2 separate regions of the Homo sapiens genome follow, and region 1 is linked to region 2. The links come from fine-mapping of genetic effects on gene expression. Tissue or cell type: monocytes after R848. Region 2 holds a variant in brackets; the other region holds the start of a gene. All regions are shown on one strand. Distances are between the middles of the regions.

Evidence for each region. PIP is the estimated chance that this variant, and not a neighbour inherited with it, causes the effect.
Region 1: it holds the start of F10, and the variant in region 2 is fine-mapped to the expression of F10 in monocytes after R848 (Quach 2016, PIP 0.95). The same link has a PIP of 0.9 or more in monocytes, monocytes after LPS and monocytes after Pam3CSK4.

Annotation. Positions count from the first base shown.
Region 1 is chr13:113,117,879-113,126,145 of GRCh38, reverse strand. It overlaps F10 (coagulation factor X), which reads right to left and starts at 3,347. Exons shown (of 8, transcript NM_000504.4): 1 at 3,221-3,347. The coding sequence starts at 3,290. It overlaps F7 (coagulation factor VII), which reads right to left. Exons shown (of 8, transcript NM_019616.4): 8 at 5,461-7,733. The coding sequence ends at 7,138.
Region 2 is chr13:113,192,798-113,201,064 of GRCh38, reverse strand. It overlaps PCID2 (PCI domain containing 2), which reads left to right. Exons shown (of 14, transcript NM_001127202.4): 2 at 549-638; 3 at 2,801-2,874; 4 at 3,822-3,887; 5 at 4,843-4,884; 6 at 5,940-5,994. Among named protein-coding and RNA genes, the nearest start is that of PCID2, 12 kb to the left of the region's middle. The variant T/C (reference allele first, on the strand shown) is at 3,097.

The DNA of each region.
Region 1 (8,267 bases), 75 kb after region 2:
CAGGCCTCACCACCTTCAACTCTGCCCTCATTCACCTCTCTCTGCCACACTGGGCTCTGCGCTGACCCTGGCTGAGCCCAACACTCACACCCCAGGACTTTTGCACCAGTCACCTCCCTGTCTGGAACATTCTTTCCACAGATACCCAAGTGGCTCAGGCCCAGCGCCCTCCGAGACACCCTCCCTGACCACGCCCTCTGACGTTGCCCCCACTCGTGTCTCTTTCATCCCCTTACACTGTGCTATTTGTCTTCTAGCACCCAACCCCTCTCTGACATTACATGCTGACAGGCTTATCCTTCCCTCCGCTGGAAAAAGACTTGACGTGTTTGGTCACAGCTGTATGCCCGTGCCTAGCACGGCCGGAACTTAACCAATATGTGTTGAGGGAATGAAGGAAAGATGGCGTGCCTGGCTCAGCCCTCTGGACTGAATCTGGGCGCTTCTGCTATCTGTTATGGCTGAGTCGCATCAACGCTTCAGTCAGACTGAGCAGGCCGGGTCTGGGCCACGTGGCCACACTTTCTGATGTGAGTAAAATGGGATTTTGGCAAAACGAAATTAAAACAAGGTTTTTAGGCACTTGTCTCAAGAAATTAATGGAACACTCTAGAACTCTGATATGGAGCATCCAGATTGGTAGACATTTGTCGTGTGGTTTGTTTCTTCAGAAGCTGTTGGGAGCATTGCAATCCTCGAGCACACAGTTGTGTTTGTTGTTTTGGCAACATCAGTGAATTCCACAGTCAGCAACTGCATTTGAGCAAGTTTTACCAGCAAGCAAAATTTTCAGTCAGTAAGGTCCAAACTCATGAAGAATGGGTTTAAACTTGTTGAATGTAAAGATTGAAACTGAAGCCACGTAGCTTTAATGATTGCCAGTACAACAGCAGTAGTTTAAAGGCTGGCACTGCAGGTGCTCTGCGTATTCTGATTTTATTAAAATAAAAAGTTGGATTGCAGAAAACACTCACAGGTGGCAGGACAGGGCTGAATAATGTCCCTCCAAATTCATGTCTTTCCCAGAACCTCAGAACCTGACCTTAATTGGAAATAGAACTTTTGTGATGTATTTAGTTAGGAAGACATTTTATGGGAGTAGAGTGAGCCCTAAATCCAATGACTGGTGTCCTTCTGAGAGAAAAGAAGACAGAAAAACAGCCATGGTGAGAACCCCATGCGATGATGGAGGCAGCGATGGGAGCAATGCTCCCACAAGCCATGGGCTGTGAGGCCGCTGGCACCCCGAGGCCAGGAAACAGGCCTAGAGCAGACTCTCTCCCAGCCTCTGGAGGAACCAGCCCCGCTGACGCCTTGATTTTGAACTTCCAGCCTCCAGAGCTGTGGGAGAAATGTTTCTGTTGCTTTAAGCTACTTGGTCCATTGTCCTTTCTTGTAGCAGTACCAGCAAAGGAATGCTGAGGTCCCACCGCCCCAGAAGAACTTCCGTGACTGCCAGGACAGCTGTGCTCGTTTAAAGGCTAGACTGCAGATGCTGTGCGCATTCTGATTTTATTAAAATCAAAAGTGTGCACAGCAGGGTCCTGAGTGGGACCTTCTGGGACCTGTGTTCAGCCCCACCCACCCCACAGTGCAGCTGCCGAGGCCTCTGAGGCAGAGTAGGGGAGAGAGATGGCCTGGCCCTGGCTCTCCGGGGCTGGCCATGTCCACCCAGGGTCCAGGCCGGCCCCCGGGGACACCACAGGCCATGGTTATGAGCCAGGCCCGCATCACACAGCTAAGGGTGCCAATACCCTGTGGACCCAGAGGTCCGCGAGGTGGGCGCCTGCATTTCCCATTGGCAGGAAGGGAAGCTGGCGCTCCACCAGGACTCTGCATAACTCCCCTAGTTTCCTCCTGTGGGTCTGGGTGGGCTCCTGGCCTGTCTTCTCATCCCCACCCTCTGCTTCTTCCCAGGAAGAGGAGTCCTGCCAACTTCCATTCCCAATAAGCCAGAGCAGCTTCCAGAGTCCCGGGCCGGGCTTAGGGCCTCGGGAGCCCCGGGCCGGGCTTAGGGCCTCAGGATCCTAGAGCATTCCGGCTGCAGAATTTTCTACCAATTCGCGGAAGCATCTGTCTGTTTGCAGAGTAGCTTTGCTGTCGATGATGATGGCATGGGTCCTTCCAGGGCCTTGTTCCACCCACGCTGATCTCATCCCACCACAAGCATCACAGTGGGCTCCTGCAGGGGGCAGTGTGGCCTGAGGGGGAGGAAGAAGGCTGGGCGAGTTGGAGCCACACAGTACCCCATGAAGACGGGAGTCCCGTTCCGCGTGGGAGACAGGAAGATGTGGCTCAGGGGACAGAGGCTGGGGAGGGCAGGGGGTTGAGGGTGGGATGGAGAAGACCCCCGTGTGATGTGACTGGAGCTCCAAGTCACCAGGCGGAGGGGCCGTTTAGGTCAGTGATGCACTGAGGATCCACTCAGCCTTCCCAGGGGTCTCCCCTTTCCACCCCACGAGGGTCTCCCCCTGCTCCGTCTCTCCCTCACACATTCCCTTCCCAGGCCTGGGTCCCCTTGGTGCCCCTGCCTGTCCACTTTGTCCAGGATGCAAACAAGTCTAGGGTCCCTGTCTCTCGTGTCCCCACCAGAGGGGCCTCCTCTTCCTCCGCTGTCCCCAGGCTTGCCTGGCTTCTGTCCTGTCTGGGCCTCTGCTTTTGGACAGACCCGGGGGTCCTGGACAGCCCTGCTGCCCCCACCTGTCCAGCTGTGCATTAGGCAGCTCCTTCCCCGACGGAGCCAGTCCGAGAGTGGTGGCACTGGCTCGGCTCAGCCTCCTCCTCCCTGGGAGCTCCTCTGCTGTGCCCCTCGTCCTGTGCCTCCCTGTGGTGGCAGATGGCTAACTGTCCTGTCTCTGCCTGCCCCAACCCCTCCCTCTCTCTCTGTCTCCGTCTTTCTACCTCTGTCTCTGCCTCTTGGCCTCCCATCTCACTGTGTCTCCGTTTCTCCTTCCCTCTCCCTTTCTCTCTCTGACTCTGTCCTTGTGTTTTTGTCTCTGTGACCTCTGATCCGCCCGTCTGACTCTCAGCCCCAGGGAGCCACAGCTGGCCTTGAGGATGCCGTTGGCTGGAAAGGCCAAGCCCAGCCATCCGAGCCCAGCCTCTGGCAGCACTCAAGGCACCCACCGTCCAGGCTGCAGAGATGAGAGGGTTTCCCCAACTGCCGCCCCTCCCTGCTCCCTGGCGCTGCTTTTGGGTCTGAAGGGCGAGGGGCACTTACGACTTTCCCCGAGCAGCAGGAGGCCAGCCAGGGAGGCACTGAGCAGGACGAGGTGCAGTGGGCGCCCCATGGTGTGGCCGAGTACTGTGTCCCTGTCCTCACTGGGACAGGCTGCTGGAGCAAAGTCCACGCCCCAGCTGGGATGGCTGTTGTCTGGCTGCTTATCACTTGGCTTAGGCCTCCTGATTGGAGCCGAGACCTGCTGGCGAGGCAGGGGAGTGACCACGCTGGGAACACATCCACTCTGGCCCCACCTTCCCCAGGCAGAGCTGGGCGGCCAGAGAGGCCCCGCAGAACCTCATCCTCATCAGTCACCAGGGCCGCGGGTGTGGGGACTTTCTGTTCTAAGAATAAAAACATCATTTCGTGCTCATTTTGTAGTTTCCAGATGTTTACATTTAACTCTCAGTCCTCACATACAAATATCATTTTCCCCATCATTTTTCCAGAAGAGAAAACTAAGTTTAGAGAGCGCAGAAGCCTGAGCCGAGGCCGCTGGCAGTGAGCGTGGGATCTGAGCCCAGGACTTCTGCCCCAAGGCCCTGCTTGTTTCTGGGCGGGCCCTTCCGCTCACAGCCACTCTCTGGGTGGTATCAGGTGGTCTCATGTCACGGGGGGGGCTTGGCATCTGCACCATGGCCTCCCACAGGCCAGGCTGGCACCTGCCCCACCCACCCCCAAACCTTCTGTGCCCGCATGGCCCCAAAACGTACTTCTGTGGGGAGTGACCTTCCCGTGACCATCTGGAGGGACAGGCTGTGTCTGAAGCCCCTCCTGACCTGCCCACCACTGGCCACACTGTTCCGAGGCTGAGAGGGCTTCTGGGCTCGTTCTCCAGTGCAGAAACCTCCCATCACAAGGTCCTGAGTGTCTCTGCTCAATGGCTGTGGGAGTCACTGGGAGGTGCAGCCGGGCTTTTTGCCTCTGGGGTCTCTGGAATAAATGGTCTAAAGCTTGGCCAGTGTGGCGATCACTGCCTGCTATGCCGTAGTGGCCGGGGAGCAATGCCCCTAACACCCACAGCACTGGCCACTGCCTCATGGTGCATCTGCCTTGATGGGTCGCCCTGTCTCGCAGCCACCTGCACATGAGCCTGGTGTGCACACATTGTGCGTCATTGTGCCTGGCACACAGGAGGCACTCACTGAGCCCCACCCGACTGCACAAACTGATGATGCTGGATGCCAACGCCAGGCTGGCCTCCCACGGCGGGCACCACGCACAGCCTGGTCCTCTGAGAAGGGCCTTCCTGGTGGCACCAGATGTCTGACTCCTGCCTCTCCTGGTCTCCACCCTCTGACATCGCCTCTAGGCATGTTTGTATGGAGAGACCAATGCGGTGTGTGCACCAACAGCAGGATGCTCATGGCAGACACGCAGTCTTTGTCATCAATGCTGGGTGGCGATGCTGGCTTTGGTGGCCCAAGCCTGCCGCCTCATCCCACCCTGTCCCAGGCCCATGGCCAGTGGCCTCCCCGTATTCTATCTCGCCACTCACAGAAAGCTGGAGCTGAGCCGTGGCAGGTGGCACGTCCCATATGAAACATGTAGCCTTTGGGGGCGCCCAGGCCCTTCAGCGAAGCCTCTGGGGAGTCCCGGGCCCCCTCCTCCGGCAGCACCATGAGGTGGGCGCCTGCATTTCCCATTGGCAGGAAGGGAGGCTGGCGCTCCACCAGGACCCCGCATGACTCCCCTAGTTTCCTCCTGTGGGTCTGGGTGGGCTCCTGAACTGTCCTCTCATCCCCACCCTCCGCTTCTTCCCAGGAAGAGTCCTGCCAACTTCCACTCCCAAGAAGTCAGAGTGGCTTCCAGAACCCTGGGCTGGGCTTAGGCCCTCAGGAGCCCCGGGCATTCTGGTTGCAGAATTTTCTACCAATTCACTGAAGCATCTGTCTGCAGAGTGGCTTTGCTGTCGATGACCATGGCATGGGCCCTTCCAGGGCCTTGTTCCATCCATGCTGATCTCATCCCACCATAAGCATCACGGTGGGCTCCTGTTTTACACATGAGGAAACTGAGGCATGGTCACTCGGACAAAAGAGAAAGCAGAGCCAGCTCTGACCTGGATCAGGGCCCGCCACTGGCTCCCGTCCCGTTTAGGGGGCATTAGGAACCGGGGTCTGGCCAGGGTCAGCAAGCATCTTCAGCAGAGGTCCTGACACTAACCATGCTGGGCTTGGCGGGTCAGCTGGTCTGTCCGGCTGGACGTCTCTGCCACGGCCACTCCATGGACACTAATATGGGTGTGTTCCCATAAAACTTTATTTACAAGAGCAGGGTGCCTTGGAAGCAGCCCACGGCTGTAGTTCATAGACCCTGTCTGCTCTGAAGTAGATGATGCCTGAGTGCCCCCGAGGTGGGTTGCTGGTGCCTGCCTTGCTGCTGTGAGTGCCAATGGTGCCCACCTTGCTGCTGTGAGTGCCAGTGGTGCCCAGGACGGCCCTGCAGGGATGGCATCGAGTCCACTCTCTGAGCCGTGCTTGCCGGAGTCTGAGTGGGGGCACTGTTTGTCACCTCCCCATTTCTCTGTTCATGTGTTTCTCATTCTTCTTCCACCACCCTGGGGACTCAGCAAGAGTGCAGCTTGCCAGGTCCTCCCACTGCAGCCAGGGCCTGGGAACTTGCATTTAGTGATGCGTGTGTCCCTGACTCTTGAGCAGGTGCTCCCAGGGTCTCTGTGAAATATCATTGACAAGGGCTGTGGCAGGGAGAGAACATCCAATTCCACAGGATCCTGGGAGCTACAGCCTCAAACATCTATCAAACAGCTTTTGTTTTTAAAAAATAGCTTCCATGTGAGGGTTCATTTCAGTGATGTTGAAAATTGTGAAAGAAAAGAGCATCTCAGAGGATGAGCACCGGGGGCTCCAAAAATGAATCATGGGCAACCCAGTGGGTGGCAGGCACCACAGGTGTGCGGAGGAGACGCAGCCGTTTATTGTGAAGCTGGGAAGCAGGTGGGGAATAGTCTGTGCAGCCCGGCACCCAGCGAAGGGAGAAATACATTTGGGGGAGAGTTTGGGGGCATTCGCCACCATGCATGGTGATGCTTCTGAATTGTCTGAAGTGAAGATGATAATGGATAAGAACCAGAAAAGTGAGAGCTAAACAACCGCCTTCAGAGGACAGCACACATGGAGTCAGCATCGGTGTGTGTGCATCTGTGTGTGCATCTGTGTGTGTACATCGGTGTGTGTGCGCATTGGTGTGTGTGTGCTCATCCATGTGTGTGCATATCTGTGTGTGCGCACATCGGTGTGTGCATATCTCTGTGCATCCGTGTGCACTGATGTGTGCGTGCATTGGCATGTGCGTGCATCCATGTGTATATCTGTGTGTGCATCTGTGTGTGCATATCTCTATGTGCGTGTGCATCGGTGTGTTTGCGTATCTCTGTGTGACCATCTGTGTGTGCATCCGTGTGTGTGCATATCTCTGTGTGTGTGCATTGGCGTGTGTGTGTGTGCATCCATGTGTGTTCATGCCTCTACTGTCTCCAGCAATGAAGGCAGAGCAGCAGCCTGAGGCCAGCAGATCACGTGCAGGTGGGCTTGGCTGAAGGGAGGTAAGGAGGCTCAGCTGGGCTGTCTGCCTCCAGGACAACCTTGGCACTCCCCTGCCCCTCTGTCCAGCGCCTGTCTGCCTCTGCCTCTCATCTTTTCTATTCCATCTCTGTGTCTCTATTAGTCTCTTTGAATCTTGGAGTCTCTTTGAGTCTCTCTCCATGTCCTCAGAGTCTCTCCCTCAGTCTCTCTCTGTCTCTGTCTCTCTCTGTTTCTGTCTCTGTCTCCCTCCCCACCTCTCCCTCCCTCCCATGCCCTCCTCTACCCCATTAACTGCAGAAGAATATATGGGATTTGGTGCCAGGACAGTTCGACGCAGCCTTGGCTTTCTCTCCACAGGCCAGGGCTGCTGGGCTAGGGAAATGGGGCTCGCAGGAGGACTCCTGGGCGTGGCTCTGAGCGCATGAGCTTTTGCAGCCACTCGATGTACTGGGAGACCCTGGTGTACACCCCAAAGTGGCCCACGGTTGCGCAGCCCTGGCCCCAGCTGACGATGCCCGTCAGGTACCACGTGCCCCGGTAGTGGGTGGCATGTGGGCCTCCACTGTCCCCCTTGCAGGAGTCCTTGCTGCCATCCGAGTAGCCGGCACAGAACATGTACTCCGTGATATTTGGGGAGTCTCCCACCTTCCGTGACTGCTGCAGGCAGTCCTGGGTCATCAGCCGGGGCACGTTGAGGACCATGAGCTCCAGGGCCGTGGCGCCACGGTCCAGCAGCTGGCCCCAGCCGCTGACCAATGAGAAGCGCACGAAGGCCAGCGTCCTCTCAGAGAACGTCCGTTCGGGCAGGCAGAGGGGCACCACATGGTCAGTGAGGACCACGGGCTGGTGCAGGCGGAGCAGCGCGATGTCGTGGTTGGTGGTGCCCGGGACGTACGTGCTGGGGATGATGACCTGCGCCACCCGCCGGCTCTGCTCATCCCCGTCGTGCTCGCTGAGGTCGTGCTCGCCTGGAAGGAAGAAGCCCCCCTCAGGCCCTTTCCACCACCTGCCACCTCACCCCCTGGTGCATGGGGATGGGCTGTGGCCATTTCTAGGTCTGCAGGGGCTGCAGTCTCCTTCTGGGGCAAGGGGACCTGCATCTAACCCCAAGGTGGGGCCAGCCTGCCCCAGGTGGCAGCCTGTGGCTCGTGTGGGGACAAGTGAACTGGGGTGAATCTGGGGTCTGGGTGTTGAGGTGGGGAAGGGATGCTGTGCCCTGGCAGCTGGGAGGACAGGGCGTGCCCCGATTCTCCACAGTTCTTCCCGGCCCAGTGGCCCTCCTGGGAGTGCTCGTCTCACCCATAAACCCAGTGAGCAGAACCCCTGCCAGCCGGTGGTCCCATGAGGCCCTGGGTGTCGCATCCTCTTCTGGGCTCTTGGTCAAGTGAGGCAGGATGGGCAGAAGCCCCCAGTCTTTTATCGTTTTATTTGGGCATGGGAAAGTGGCTGAGAGCACGGTGGCCACAGCAGTCGTGCCCAGCATGGTTGCTCCCCTTTTGGGG
Region 2 (8,267 bases):
GGATTTTCAAACATATATTAGTGTGATTGAGTAAAATTAGAATAATTCATCTTCATGAAGAGCTACATGATAAACCACTGACTTATTTTTATTTGCTTAACCTGTTTTTTTGCTTCAGGAACATCTGTTTTTGTTTTTTTGGTCTGTTTTAAAGAGACGGGTCTTGCTATGTTGTCCAGGATGGTCTCGAACTCCTGGCTCAAGCAGTCCTTCCTCAGCCTCACAAAGTGCTGGGATTACAGGCCTGAGCCAGCCAGGAACAACCTATTTTGAAATGAAATTATTGTTTACGATTGCGCCACTGCAGTCCGCAGTCCGACCTGGGCGACAGAGCGAGACTCCGTCTCAAAAAAAAAAAAAAAAAAAAAGAAATTATTGTTTACCCACTGCAGAGAGTAGTGACCATCTGTTACATTTTGATTGTTCTGTCTTCTTTCAAAGTAGGGGAAAATGAATTTTCCCCTGTGTGGCATTCAGTGTATTGTTGTAGGTTCTATTCGAACAGAATATTTTATTTTCTACTTAGGTTTCCCTTTCAAATGTTTCAGGTGTACGAAGCCATCGACAGCAGAGATGGAGCATCTTGTGCAGAGTTGGTGTCTTTTAAACATCCTCATGTTGCAAACCCACGACTTCAAGTAGGTGAAAGAGCTGTGCACACAGGTGTCTGCAGACAATTACAGGGTAACCACTTTCCTAAGAGAAGCGTAGAGTTTGAGTAAGAAGAAAACTAATATTGTCACTCTTATTTGAAAATTTTAAAGTTTCTTTATGATTTATGTAATTTCAATCCATTTGTGGAGCACTGACTATGTACGCACACTGTGGTGATGTGGACCTCCTGCCCTTGTGTTTGATTCCTAGACAGCTCTCTGAGGTTTAGAGAAGTTAGATGGTGGAGAGGCGGTGGAGCTTAGATTCTGTCTAGGCCTGTGCGTCCCCAAAGCCCCATAGACGTCATGTACCACAGGTGTCTCCCATTTAAGTTGTTAGTCAGAAAGGCTGGCAAGCCAAGGCCCAGCCTGGGGTTGTACATGGAGTTTCCATGTCATCTGTGGCGTAGATGATGTTGAGGCAGTATTTTCTATAGAAAATCTTGTGGACATTTGGTAAAGCCCTGTTTCCTCATTGACACCCTTTATCATATTGGAGTGTGTTCCTACTGGAAGCAGCATTTTTCTTTTGGAAGAAAAATGGGCTTATCTATTGGTGATTATGTTTGGCGGTGTACAGACTTGCAACTCAGACCAGGTAAATCAGTCTCTGAAGTAGCAGCAGGCCTGTTTTTGTTTTTCTAATAAAGTTACCTAGGTGATTCTATGTGTAGACAGTGTTGAAAACCATTGCTCTAAGTAGGAGTTAGTGCTAGAGACTCGATGAGACTCAGGCTTGCCTTGGCCAGAACACCCCATGGCTGGTGCCCTGTGCTTTGTATTGTATGACATGAGAGGACACACACTGTCCTGTTTGCAATCTGAGACAGATCCCTTCATTGTAAAATTCCCCAGTAAACTTTCTTTCGGTGGTTTCATTCACCAGGGACTGTAGAATGGTGATTTTTCTGATACTGTCATTCTTCTCTCTCACCATATCAGCATGGGCTCATTGCTTTTGTAAACAAAACCAAACAAAACAAAAAAACGCAGTGTGCTTATAATCCATTGTGTGTTAGTCTGGGTTCTCCAGAGAAACAGAGCCAGTGGGATATATCAATATTTATAGAGATTTAGTATGAGGAACTGGGTCCTGTGATTGTAGAGGTCAAGAAATCCCACACAAGGAGTGAATTCTTTCTTCCTCGACCTCTTGTTCTATTCAAGCCCTCATCAGATTGGCCATTGCCCGTCCACACTGAGGAGGGCCATCTACTTTCCTGAGTCTACTAGTGCAACTGCCAGTCTCATCCAGAAACACCCTCACAGACACTCCCAGAAATAACATTGTCTGGGGACTCCACAGCTAGTCAAGTTGGCAAAATTAACCATCACCTGTTGAGATGTTCAGATTATCTAAAATTTGACTGTTAGGAGGAAAGGAAAACTTAGAAAGAAATGTCAGCTAGACTAGCCCAGGAGATGAGACTGGTGGTCTCAGCAGGAAGCCGAGAAGAACGAGTCCTAACATAGCACCATCTGTAACTCATTAGACCTCACTTACTAAACCTATGACAGTTACTTAACAAGTATTTCTTGACTGACTGGTCAAGAATACTAATATACTGAAATGTATATGAAAGTGCCTAGAATATTTTCTGACTTGCAGAAGGCGAGACCAAATTATATTCATGGGCTTCTTTTTCCCCTGAAATATTGATAAATATTTGTTGAAGTAATGAACCATTTATTTATTTATTTATTTATGAGACAGAGTCTCCCTCTGTCACCCAGGCTGTAGTGCAGTGGCACGATCTTGGCTTACTACAACCTCCCCCACCCATGTTCAAGCGATTCTCATGCCTCAGCCTCCTGAGTAGCTGGGATTACCAGCGTGTACCACCACATCCAGCTAATTTTTGTAATTTTTTTTGTAGAGACGGGCTTTCACCATGTTGGCCAGGCTGGTCTTGAACTTCTAGCCTCAAGTGATCTGCCCACCTCGCCCTCCCAAAGTGCTGGGATTACAGGCATGAGCCACTGTGCTCACGGCCTGAACCTTTTATTTAGAGTGGTAAATATAAAGTGTTACTGTGAACTGTAAAGCATAAATTCTCTTGAAACAGAGGTTTAAATCTCTTTCTATATGTTGCATTCTTTCTGTGCCTATTAATTTTACTTTTGCTATTTTTCTTTTTTAAAATCAGATGGCCTCTCCAGAGGAGAAGTGTCAACAAGTCTTGGAACCCCCTTATGATGAAATGTTTGCAGCTCATTTAAGGTAATCTGTTGGGGAGGAAGAAAAACACACACATCTGGAAATTGCTGAATTAACTGGGGATTTTATCTTGCATTATCTTGTGCTTGAAGCAGTGAATAACTGACTTTGAAAAAGTGGGAAAATGCATTTGTAACTTCAGTTTGGTAAAGCCTGTGGAAATTGTAAACATCAGTTATATAATACTATTTTTAACATCACACAGTATTTAGCAGAGTGCCTGCT[T/C]AGTGGTCTTTTTAGTAGAGTTTGGAGCCGAACTGTTCACTTACCCTTTTCGTGGAAATATGTCTGTTTTTGAAGCTCTTTACGTTACTGGGAAAGAAATTAGAGTTGAGCAAAGCAAACAATGCTACTTTTTATGTACACTTCATATCTACTGTTTTATCTCTAAAGGATCAGTTCAGGCAGAAGATTGTGTCCTTATAGCCATGTGAGATTTGATTACTGTCTTTCAGAGCAGCCTGGGCTACAGGACCAGTGTGGGGTCTGTGAGCAGGAATGTTCTGTGAACCCCACAGGGTCTTTGGAAGAGTTGGGGCACCACCGTGTTCCTTGTAGTACAAAGCACCTGTGATTTCCTAGCTCTGTGCAGTGTGCGATAGGTTCCAGATTTGGCGATGAACTAACACTGACATTACCCAGCTGGGAATCTAGTTTGAATGTCATTGTCAGCCCCTGCTAGAGTGGAAGGGTCATACTATGTTATCAACATGTGTTACTCATAAACCTGCTGGTGCTAGGTCCTTCTGGGACTTGAAAGAGTAGTCTCCAAGCTTACTGTGGGACTTCCTCTTATCCTCACCTGTTTGTGTTCAGCCATTTGTGTGTTTCTTCCTTCACTCCTTTCATCCCAGGACCACTGGGACCTGTGCAATGAAGTGAGCTGTGTGGGCTGCATAACTAGTGCTAGGTTTTTATTGTGTGACAGCATGTTTCTGTTTCTCCTCCAGGTGCACTTATGCAGTGGGGAATCATGACTTCATAGAGGCATACAAGTGCCAGACCGTGATAGTCCAATATCCTTTGTCGTTCATGGCAGCTGTCCCGCATAGAACACATGCAGTGGATTACTTGGGACTTGAGACCCGGAAACACTGGGCCAGTTGCTCATTTCTGCAGTTAGAAAGGAATGACAGTGTTTTGGAACAGAAGCTCGTTTCAGCTCTTTCACTTGGGTACTTAAATTTAGCATGGATCTGAAGACTCGTGCAGTACTTAGTAAGGAAGAACACTGGTTAGGAAGAAGGATCTTACTCTGCTGAGAAGAAGAATGCTTTGTTGCCTTTAGTAAGGTAGTAAGTATATTTACAGGGACTGGTTAAGTCCTGTTGGTGAAATACCAGAAATCCAGAATTCAGGCAGAGATGGACAAGAGTGGCCTCAGATGTACATCGGCATTGAATTGTGGCAGCTGAAGACCTTAAATCAAACCAATTCATACTTCAGTCATTTAAAGGGTATCTTTAGTTACGGCCTGAGTCAGTGAGTGTGCTAAGGATTTGTATGTATCTCTAGATTTTGTCTTTTCGTTTTAACCACCTTGTTTAAATATACACAGAAGAGAGTTGGGCTATTTGCTCACAGCCTCCTTAGAATTCAAGAATTCTAGAGTTGATAAAATCAGCCTTATGCTACAGATTCTAAAGCACTTAAATATAACTCATGATCATCTGGGCTCAGAGAAACCAAATAAAATGTCAGAAAGGGCTGATTTTAAAAAATCTTGTAAGTCTTTTTTATTTAGGAGACAGTGTGTATGAAATAAGTGTATTTAGTATACTTGAGCCTAATGAGATACAGATATTTGTAATGTGAGCTTATACCTTTTTTCCTTCAAGAACTTACTATTGTTGCAACATAAATCTGCTCAAGGGTGATCTACATTCCTTAAAATTTAGATTCTTATTCTTTACTTTTATCGTACGTAGCATTATTTGAACTTTGTATGCCATATCTTCCTTAATACAGTACATCATTCTTGCGAGCATTCCAGGCCCACAAAGAAGAAAACTGGTAAGTGTGAACAGAAACAGCTGAATTAGCAAATGGCAATTTTTTTAGCAGAATCTTTTTACAAATTTGCTTTAAATAAATGTGTATTGTATTTTCCATGTGGATATTTGGTAATCAGTGTGTTGACATATGGTAATATCTACACAGATGAGTGGAGTCACAAATCTAGTAAACTGAAATGGTAGATCAGCCACATTGTTTGCAGTGTGTCTATGTCAATATAGTATTATTTTTATTTCAGATGTCCATTTCCCTAGATATTTATTAAATACTGTTTTTTCCTTCAGTTGTCAATTTTGAACTTTTGGTTTTAAACCTTAGATAAAAGAGGTAGACCAACTACGGTTCATTTGGGGTGTTCTAATACATAATAATGGTGGTATTTTTAAATGCCTTGCCAAACTAAATTTTATGATTTATTAACAAACTATAGGTTAATACTGAAATTTGTTTATACTGAAATAACCAAAGGCCTTTTGCAAACAAACCCGCCCTTTTATCTTTTTTTTTTTTTGAGAAGGAGTCTTGCTCAGTCGCCGAGGCTGGAGTGCAGTGGCGCAGTCTTGGCTCACTGCAGCCTCTGCCTCCCGCCACCCTTTTATCTTTTAACGTGAAAACTTGCACATGAAAACAGTCCAGTTTTGCCAGTTGGCTGTAAAAGTTGTTTTGTGACATTTTGTGTATTACATATTCTGGTTCCTGTTAGGAAATCTGATCAAACCACTTCTTTTTTAGTGGTGCTGTTTGGATACTGGTGGGAAGCTGAGGGGAGGAGGATATCCTGGGAGCCCAGAACTGAAGCAGGGCTGAGGTCTCTGACAGGGTTGGGGACAGGGGTGTGGAGCACCGCATTGTGGGGCCCCAGGATGATCAGGAAGTCTGAGGCCTGCAGCCTGCCTGGACAGAAGGTGAGGAAGCAGACAACTGTCAGAGTTTTGGATAAGTGCGGACTCCATTCTGGATAGTAGCCCTGGGTGTCCGTGTTCTTCCCACCTCTGGGGATGGAATCTTGGCCCACGTAGCCCCTCACACTTGTTTACTTTTTTGCCCTGCAGGGCTCTGCCTGTCATGTATGCAGTAGCGCTTGACCTTCGAGTGTTTGCCAATAATGTAAGTTTAATTTGCTGTCATTATTATTTTAAAACTAAAACTTGGTGACTATCTGTTGTTTAATTTCATGTCATTCTTCCCAGAAGTTTTGAGGAGCAAATTGGAGTTGAGATGTGTCTGGTATAGGGAGCAAAAGAAAGATATTGACTATTCTTTCTGGGTTAACACCAACAGATTTATATAAACATTTGCTCAGATTTCCACACTGTTCATATAGAGGGAGAGGTTCCATTTTGTGGTTAACCATTTATGGTATGTGTTATTTTTATGAAGTGAGTGGAACAACAACAAATGAGCTTATTCTGCATCTCTTCTACCTTTAAGATGTGGCCTGCTCCCCCACCAAAAAGAATTCAGCTTCATATAGATTTGGGCAGTAGGAGGGGGCTTCCCTGGGGTGAAGGGAGATCCTGGGTTTTATGGAGGCGACGTCCCCATGGGGACCCACGGAAGTCCCCATTATGGAGCAGCATTTGTCAACCTTTTGGTTTTAGGACGACCCCTTTACAGTTTTAGAAATGATTGTTGACTTCAGTTCCAGTCAGGATGCAATGGATTTCACCCTATTGTGCCTGCTAGAAACAGTTAAAACCCTGGGAGTTGTCAGGCCGGCATGGCTATGGGAGGTGGAGAGAAGAGGGGGATGGGGCTCAGAGTCACGTGTAGGGAGTCTCCAGGTTTCCTTTTTGTCTCCTGTCTGTCCTGGACTGGGCGCGTTAGAAACCTGAAGCCTTTCACCATCAGGCAGAGACAAAAAGCCCCAAGGAAACCAGGAGGCTGGGAAGACAGTCCAATCCAGCAAGACAGAACTCTGACCGTCACTGCCTCACTCCAGTGCCAGGCGCAAAGAAGTCAGCAGGTCCGTCCCACCCCATCTGCAAAGTGGTGCGGACTGGGGGTGGCCCAGGACCTCCACCCTGGGCTAGCAGTAATGAGGAGCTAGTCCCCCTCCCCACCAGGTGGATGTCAGAGGCTAAGCAGGGGACCTAGACCTCCCCGACTCAGTGGCTAAGGGGATGCACCTGTTTCTCTGCTTGCATGGTGAGGCCTGCTAAACAAGATAAATAAAGTCCATAGTCTCGTCAGGTAGTGCCTCAAATGTCCGGGATCTAATCGACACTGATTACCAGGAAAATCTCAACTTTCAGAGATTTCAAATGAGAAAAAACATTCAGCAGAAGACACCAAGGCTGAGATTGTACAAATGTTGGAATTATGTGACAAGAGTTTTAAACAGCCCTCTTGATTCAGCAAGCAATTTAGAACATGCTTGAAACAAATGAAAACATTTAAAGTCTCAACAAGGAAATAGGCGATATAAAGAAGAACCAAATGGAAATTTTAGAACTGAAAAGTATACTGAAGACCTCAGAAAGCTTTTATTTTTGTTATATCTATTTATATTTACTGTATTAGAAATTTTAATTAGAAAAGATTTTAAAATATTCATTTTAAAGCAACAATAATAAACCTTTTACATGTAACATAACTGACTTTTTAAATAAAAAATAACTATATTTCCAAAACAAAATACTAAGAAAAGTAGTGTCACATCACTTTTGACCTCTTTGATGTCTAGTTCAGCAGAGGCAATCTGGTCCCCTTGCCTGCTTCTGCACTTACTCTGTTGCAGTACACTGTTTTGAGTAAAGTGTTTCTCTGCCTGATGGTGAAAGGCTACATCACAAAGTTGTAGATGGAAAAGAGAGGAATATTCTCATAGGCTTTCCAGACCATTGAGATAATTCTTTGACTCTATATAGGAAAACTCCAAGAGGCAGTTTTTTTTTTTTAAAAAGGTTAGTTACAATGTGGCTTCTGAAGTGTACCAATAAACTTTTTCTACCTTTACACTGAAATCCACTGGTCTGCCTAAAGCACTGAATGGATTTCGTAATATCTTGTGTTAGTCATGTCTTAGTCCATTTGGGCTGCTATAAGAAAATACTATAAACTGGGTTGGCTTGTAACCAACAAGCATTTATGTCTCATAGTTCTGGAGGCAGGGAGGTCCAGATCAAGTCAGGGAGGTCCAGATCAAGTCAGGCAGGGAGGTCCAGATCAAGTTGAGTTTCTGATGAAGAGGGCCGCTTCCTGGCTCATAGCATCTTGCTGTGTCTGCACATGGTAGATGGGGCAAGGGATCTCTCTTTCCCATTCATGACAGCTTCACCTTCATGACCTCATCACCTTCCAAAGGCCTCTCTTCCAAACACCGTCACTTTGAGGGTTAGGATTTCAGCATGAGTTTTGGAGGGGACACAAGCATTCAG